2 linked regions of the Homo sapiens genome follow. The protein of the gene in region 2 purifies or fractionates together with the protein of the main gene of each other region. This does not show direct contact. Each region holds a gene or a part of one and is shown on either strand. Other genes may lie near its edges.

Region 1 (3,500 bases), on a different chromosome or scaffold from region 2:
GACAGGGCAACATAGTGAGACCTTGTCTCTACTAAAAGTAAAAAGACTAGCCAGGTATGGTGGCACACACCTGTAGTCCCAGCTACTCAGGAGGCTGAGGTGGGAGGATCATTTGAGCCTGGGAGTTCAAGGCTGTAGTGAGCTGTGATCGTATCACTGCATTCCAACCTGAGTGACAAAGCAAGACCCTGTCTCAAAAATGAATGAAAGAAAGAAAGAAAGAAAGAAAGAAAGAAAGAAAAAGGTTAAAGTCTAAATGGAAAGAATCATTTTCTATCCAAGCATTCTACAGTTTTTCTAAGGATACAGAAGTCACAACTGAATTTCAGTCTCATATTTGCAAACATCGTCATTTCAGATAGTTGTTTCATATGCACCAAAGGAAACTACCTTGAAACTGTATATTACATACATTAAAACATTTTTTTAGGCCAGGTGCAGTGGCTCACGTCTGTAATCCCAGCACTTGGGGAGGCCGAGGCAGGCAGATCAACTGAGGTCATGAGTTCGAAATCAGCTTGGGCAACATGGCATTATCCCATCTCTACTAAAAATACAAAAATTAGCCGGGCGCAGTGGCTTATGCCTGTAATCTCAGCACTTTGGGAGGCCGAGAGTTTGAGACCAGCCTGACCAACATGGAGCCCCGTTTCTACTAAAAATACAAAATTAGCCAGACGTGGTGGCACATGCCTGTAATCCCAGCTACTCGGGAGGCTGAGGCAGGAGAATCTTTTGAACCCAGGAGGCGGAAGTTGCGGTGAGCCAAGATCACGCCATTGCACTCCAGCCTGGGCAATAAGAGCGAAACTCTGTCTCAAAAAAAAAAAAAAAAAAATTAGCCGGGCATGGCAGCAAGTGCCTGTAGTACCAGCTTCTAGGGAGGCTGAGGCAGGAGAATCACCTGAACATGGGAGGTGGAGGTTGCAGTGAGCCAAGATCACACCACTGCACTCCAGCCCGGGCAACAGAGCAAGGCTCCATCTCAAAAAAAAAAAAAAATTAGTTTTAATTTAGTTGTTTATTCACTTGAATCAGGCATCTCCAAAACTTAAAATGTTGGCCCCTGACACAGGTGTCACACCACAAGCTACTAATAGAATTCACCCAGCACACTAAAACCTTACTACATTGCCACCAGGACCACAGTGTGAGGAGCAACAATGGTAGCAAGAAGTATCCGGAATTTTATGTAATAAACTTTCTGAGTGGGGTCTAGAGAGACCTAGCTCACTCTAAATTGTGCCTTTTAGAAGGTATTGCCATAGCATGACTCTAGCTTATAATTTTAAATGAGTTAATGAATACTCATTTAAAATTTCTTTTGGTTGTTCATTTTGAGACAGTCTCACACTGTCACCCAGGCTGAAGTGCAGTGGCATGATCTTGGCTAATCACAACCTCCGCCTCCCTGGCTCAAGCCATCCTTCCACCTCAGCCTCCTGAGTAGCTGGGACCACAGGTGCACGCTGCCACGCCCAGCTAATTTTTTTTTTTTTTTTTTTTTTTTTTTTGTAGGGATGGGGTTTTGCCATGTTGCTCAGGCTGGTCTCGAACTCCTGGGCTCAAGCGATCCACCTGCCCCAGCCTCCTGAAGTAGTGAGATTACAGGTGTGAGCCACTTGCACCCAGCCTCTCACTTAAAATTTCTAATACATTCTGCTACCATCTGTGAGTACAAAACCATCTAAGTAAAATAAGAATAGTTTGGCATTTGGAAGTAATTTTTTAAAACAACATTCATATTAATTTAAGGAGCATAACAGATTCCAGTGAATGTTATGATTCGCTATTGTAACATTATTCTAGTAAATATGTTGGAGAAGAACAGTTCTAGTGAATTAACTATGGTTTTGGAAGGCAGCTATGCTCACCATCATACCACCAACACAACTATGGTTTTATTTTATATTATTTATTTTATTTTTGAGACAGAGTCTCGCTCTATCGCCCAGGCTGGAGTGGCACAATATCAGCTCACTGCAACCTCTGCCTCCTGGGTTCAAGGGATTCTCCTGCCTCAGCCTCCAAAGTAGCTGGGATTACAGGCATGCACCTCCACGTCCGGATAATTTTTGTATTTTTAGCAGAGACGAGGTTTCAACATGTTGGCCAGGCTGGCCTCAAACGCCTGACCTCAGGTGATCTGCCCGCCTCAGCCTCCCAAAGTGCTAGGATTACAGGTGTGAGCCACCGTGCCTGGTCACAACTATGGTTTTATAATCAGCAAATGGCATTTAATAATGTGTTAGTATCAAACAAAACTGGGCAGCAACAGAGACCAATGCACATTCTTCTTGGTGTGTCAGTAGGAACAAATACAGCAAATTAAAAATTGTCTGCTAGAAAATCAAAGATCACAGAGATGTTTGGATCAGTCCCCTCCTCTCTTCTGAGGATGAGACTCAAATCACAGGAAGAAAAGTTACTCAAGAATCCTCTGGAACAGCCCAAGTGCAGGTTCAACTCAAACACTACTACCAACATCAGTAACAGGATTTAAGTTTTTTTTTTTTTCTTTTTCAGAAACAGAATCTCACTATTTTGCCCAGACTAGCCTTGAACTCCTGGGCTCAAACAATCCTCCTGCCTCAACCTCTCAAGTAGCTGGGACTATAGATGCGTGCCACCACGCCCAGTAGTTCCTGGATTTAAAACATCACTGTTAGTAAACTCTGGGCAGACTTTTCCTGAAGGAAGTGGTAAGAGAGGGCAGGAAGCTCACAGGCATCCCTAACAGCTTATTTCCTTTCCCTTAACATCTTGAGGAATGAGGCCTGGAGGAAGAGAACCATGTTGTATTTCTGTGACGCTCAGCCAGCATCCATTTTATTGGAATAACAAAGGATTTGTTTAAAGAGCAGCAGTGCTTATGGCTTATAGCCCTGAAACACCAGATTGAGAAGAAATATCAACTTGACCCTACTTACAGGAGTTGTGCCGACGACGGAAACTTTTGGACTGACTCAAGGATTCCATGTGCCTGTCGACATAGCTCTTTGAGCACTGTTGCTGCTGCGGGGAAACGGCAACATCCTGGCTCTTCACATCTGTCCTCTTAGGGATATTCTGAGGGGCACTGCTGGAAGAGGCTGGCTTCTTGACAAACTTGCCTGTGCCATTCTGATTGATGCCCACTTGGCAGCCAGCACCAGAGGGGCCTAATTCTGTTTGATGAAGGTCTCCAAAATGTTGGTTGTCTCCAGGTCCTGGTATCTCCAGAATTTTTAACTCCGTAATGTCACCTGCCCTGAAATACACAAAAAAGCCAAGTCTCAAAATTATAATAGTGGTAAGAATGATGAAACTGAGATCATTAGCAAACAGCTACCCCTTTGCAGGACTGCATTTTATTGAGTTATCAGAGGCTAGGAAAGGGGGCTGTGTGCTTAAGGACAGGGGTCAGCCACCAACTATCCAACTGACACAATGCTAGCCTTTAAAAAGAGGCTATTGGCCGGGCACGGTGGCTCACGCCTGTAATCCCAGCACTTTGGGAG
Region 2 (3,500 bases):
TTCATCCTTTTTTGATCTCATCTCTTTGACTCCTATCTAGTCCTTTGCCTCATCTACGAACCACTCCCAACCCCTTTACCCTGCTAATATCCCAGCTCACTCTTCTCTCACCTTAAACTGGGCCCCAAACTTTCTCAGTTCTTCCAGTTGGAATCGTTTCTGTTCATTCTGAAGACCAGGGACTATGAGAAAACAGTCAAAAAGAAGAAAATACAAAACATTCTTTCTCTAAGGTGGCTACACAGTGCCAAAAGAACAGAGGACAAGAAAGCAAAGAAAAAAGAGAAACTCTTGAGGATCACAGAAGTGAAATTATAATCCAAGGACTGATAGACATTGTTTGCCTCTGAATTCCAACAAACTTCCTAACTGAAATACTCTCCCCCAGACAAAGGAGCATTAATCCTCAGCAGAAAAAAAACCACCCTCACCTTTCCCAGCTATCCGAGCCAGCTCCTGGGGCTCCAGAGTTCTCCCAGGTTCCTTGGTAGAGAGTTCTTTTACTGTTCAAGTAAAGAGAAATGCCTAAAGGTCCTTCTGTCCAGAACCACAAATCACACTAAATATGCATTCACAGCACTCAAACACCTAGCTCTTACCATCTGTGGGGGCCAGGGAGATCTTTGGAGAAGCTGGAGAAATGGAGCCCACTCCAGGATCTGAGACTGATGAGGTCACAGGGATGGAGGCTGAAGAGGTTGGCACTGCCGAGCCGATGGGAGGCTCTGGACAGGAAGCTGAGATTGGGGCAGGGGCAGCAGACTTGGGAGAACGCGGGGGATACATCCGGCCCACTGGAAGAAAAGGGGGAGCTGTAGGATGGTTACTGCTGGTCAACAGCAGTGAGTACAAGGGCCTTACTCAAAACAGCAAGAAAGTTTACACACTATACAACCAGAGTCACCAACTTAAATGTCTAGAAGCTCAAGGCAGGTAACACAAGCAGGTAAATGGCCTCATGGGCATCATCGACAACTGGAATGCTTAAAGGAGTGGCAGGGATTCTGTTCCAGTCAACTCAAGCTACGCAGCAAGGCAAGCTCAGTTGACAGAATTTCCTGTAATTCAAAAGAAACTAAAAATTTTCTATGGCTTCTATTGATTTATTTATTTAGAGACAGGGTATCGCTCTGTTCCCCAGACTGGAGTGCAATGGTGTGATGCCATCTCACTGCAACCTCAGCCTCCTGGGCTCAAGCGATTCCCCCCACCTCAGCCTCGCAAGTAGCTGGGAGTACAGGTGCACGCCATCAAGCCTAGCTAATCTTTTTATTTTTTGCAGAAGGGTTTTGCCGTGTTGCCCAGGCTGGTCTTAAACTCCTGGGCTCAAGCAATCTGCCTACCTCGGCCTGTTTTAAAAAGTTAGCAACTGGCAGGGTGTGGTGGCTCACGCCTGTAATCCCAGCACTTTGGGAGACCAAGGTGGGAGGATCACAAGGTCAGGAGTTCGAGATCAGCCTGGCCAACATAATAAAACCCCGCTTCTACTAAAAATACAAAAAAATTAGCCAGCCGTGGTGGTGGGTGCCTGTAATCCCAGCTACTTGGGAGGCTGAGACAGGAGAATGGCTTGAATCTGAGGGGTGGAGGCTGCAGTGAGCTGAGATGGCGCCACCGTACTCTGGCCCAGGCAACAGTGCAAGACTCCGTTTCAAAAAAAGAAAAAAACAAAACAAAACAAAACTTAGCAACTGATTCAAATCTAAACAAAAGATGTCTGCCAAGCAGACACAACCCATGGATTGCTAGGTTGAGATTTCTGCACTAGGGAAATCGAAGAACTATTTCCCAATATGACTAAATCCCAAATGCCCAAAACATCTATCTTAAAATTATCTCCCATTCCAGCACTGTAACAAATGGACATATTTACATCTCTTTACAAATTTCCATCCATTTCTTCATCCAACACTACTAAAGCTTTACCTGCAGGAGGAGGTGGAACAGAAGTTTCTCCAGAAGGCCTATTACTGGGCGAAGACAGAGTCTTGGCACCTCTCAGAGGCCGTTGTGCCTTTGGGGACATGCGGGAAGGGCCTGTTTGGTTTTTTTTTTTTTTTTTGAGAAGAAAATGTCAGGAGGCAGACGACCTATTACATTCCCACCGATGCAGCGTCATTCCAACACACCCAAACCCCTCCAATTACCCTCCCACCTCCTTGGCATCCCCTTCCCTGCCCTCTTCCTCAAAGTCACCTCATAACTCACCTCCATTGATACCACGGGCCTCAGAACCTGGGCCAGGGCTGCTGTTGTCCAGATGGTGAGGGCCACGAGGTGGCAAAGAGCTAAGGCCAGGCCGACCGCCCCGAGAGCTGCTGCATCGAACTCCTCCCCGGGGACCTTCCCGGACTCGTTGAGGCAGAGGGATATACTTCCCCTCCCTGAGGAAAGAGTTCAAATAAGGCCAGGTAGCCACAAAACCCACGTTTTGGAAAGATGAAGCCATTTCTTCTTCTAAAGTCTCCCCCTTCTGCCCCCAAACATACACACACTGCCTGGCTCCAGCACCATCCCACTTGAAGATCTGCCCTAGTTTAACGTTCTGTGGCTACGGACTTATGACCTCATGTGACATCAACTCTGAGCCAACCAACCTGGCCAGTGCTCCACAATTCTACAACTCCTGACCTATGACAAAAGTAGGATCACACCGTAGTTCCAGGGATAGTTTTTAAAAGACACAAATAATGTAGTTATATTTCACTTTTATAAAAAGAAATAGCACATAAATTTTGAATTTTTTTTTTTTAGATCTACAAGCTCCAGCTTTGTTACTTTAGGCAAATTACATAATCTCGCTTTACCTCAACCTCCTAAACCTGTGTATGACATTTTACATGGTCACAAGGCTTAAACCACAGCACTCATCAACTCTGGGCCCAGGCCCCAGGATATTCCCAGAAGCCCCAAGTAGTCCTGGCTGTTTGCAACAGTCACCTGGATGCCAAGCTGGGGCTCTCCCGCCCTGAGCCCTGCCGCTGGACTGCACTGTGCTTCTCCTCTTCAGTGCGCCCATCGTCGTTCTCCATGGCGATCCGTAGGCGGTACTGGGGGCTTGATTCAATCTCTCGAGCCAACTGGGCCGCACGCAGCTCTCGCTGACGAAACTCTTCTGAGTTGTCCTTTTCTAAGGGCACCCTGAGACAGCACCCACAGACCACCACCATCCCAGTGCCAGGGGACAAAAGAGGAAAAAAGGAAAAACATTTCAACAAGTCCAATCACCAGTTCAGGCATGGAAGTATTTAATCCCTTCAACATCTGGGTAACGGGCACCGACTGCATCCCAGGTAGAGCACCAAGGCTTATCTGGGAATGTGAGAAGCACTTAAGACGCTTAAAACCTTTGAGGGAAGAATTCCACAAGGCAGAGTAGGAGTAGGGATGGCGACCCTGGACACCCAGAGAAAAATGAGCAAAAACTATGTTCTACCTGGAAACCTGTCTTCACTTAGTGACCCCATATCACCAACACATCACCTGGAGAGCACCAAGAT

The links. The genes of interacting proteins can lie anywhere in the genome.
Region 1: the proteins of ATXN2L (region 2) and EDC3 purify together in Homo sapiens (affinity purification with mass spectrometry, with the first as the bait; one large-scale study listed by BioGRID). This does not show direct contact.

Annotation. Positions count from the first base shown.
Region 1 is NC_000015.10:74,668,525-74,672,024, forward strand, and holds part of EDC3 (enhancer of mRNA-decapping protein 3), read right to left. Parts: intron 3,251-3,500; coding exon 2,931-3,250; intron 1-2,930. UniProt on the Homo sapiens protein: Binds single-stranded RNA. Involved in the process of mRNA degradation and in the positive regulation of mRNA decapping. May play a role in spermiogenesis and oogenesis.
Region 2 is NC_000016.10:28,829,499-28,832,998, reverse strand, and holds part of ATXN2L (ataxin-2-like protein), read right to left. Parts: intron 3,142-3,500; coding exon 2,941-3,141; intron 2,385-2,940; coding exon 2,209-2,384; intron 2,038-2,208; coding exon 1,927-2,037; intron 813-1,926; coding exon of another isoform or gene 795-812; coding exon 600-794; intron 504-599; coding exon 432-503; intron 183-431; coding exon 112-182; intron 1-111. UniProt on the Homo sapiens protein: Involved in the regulation of stress granule and P-body formation.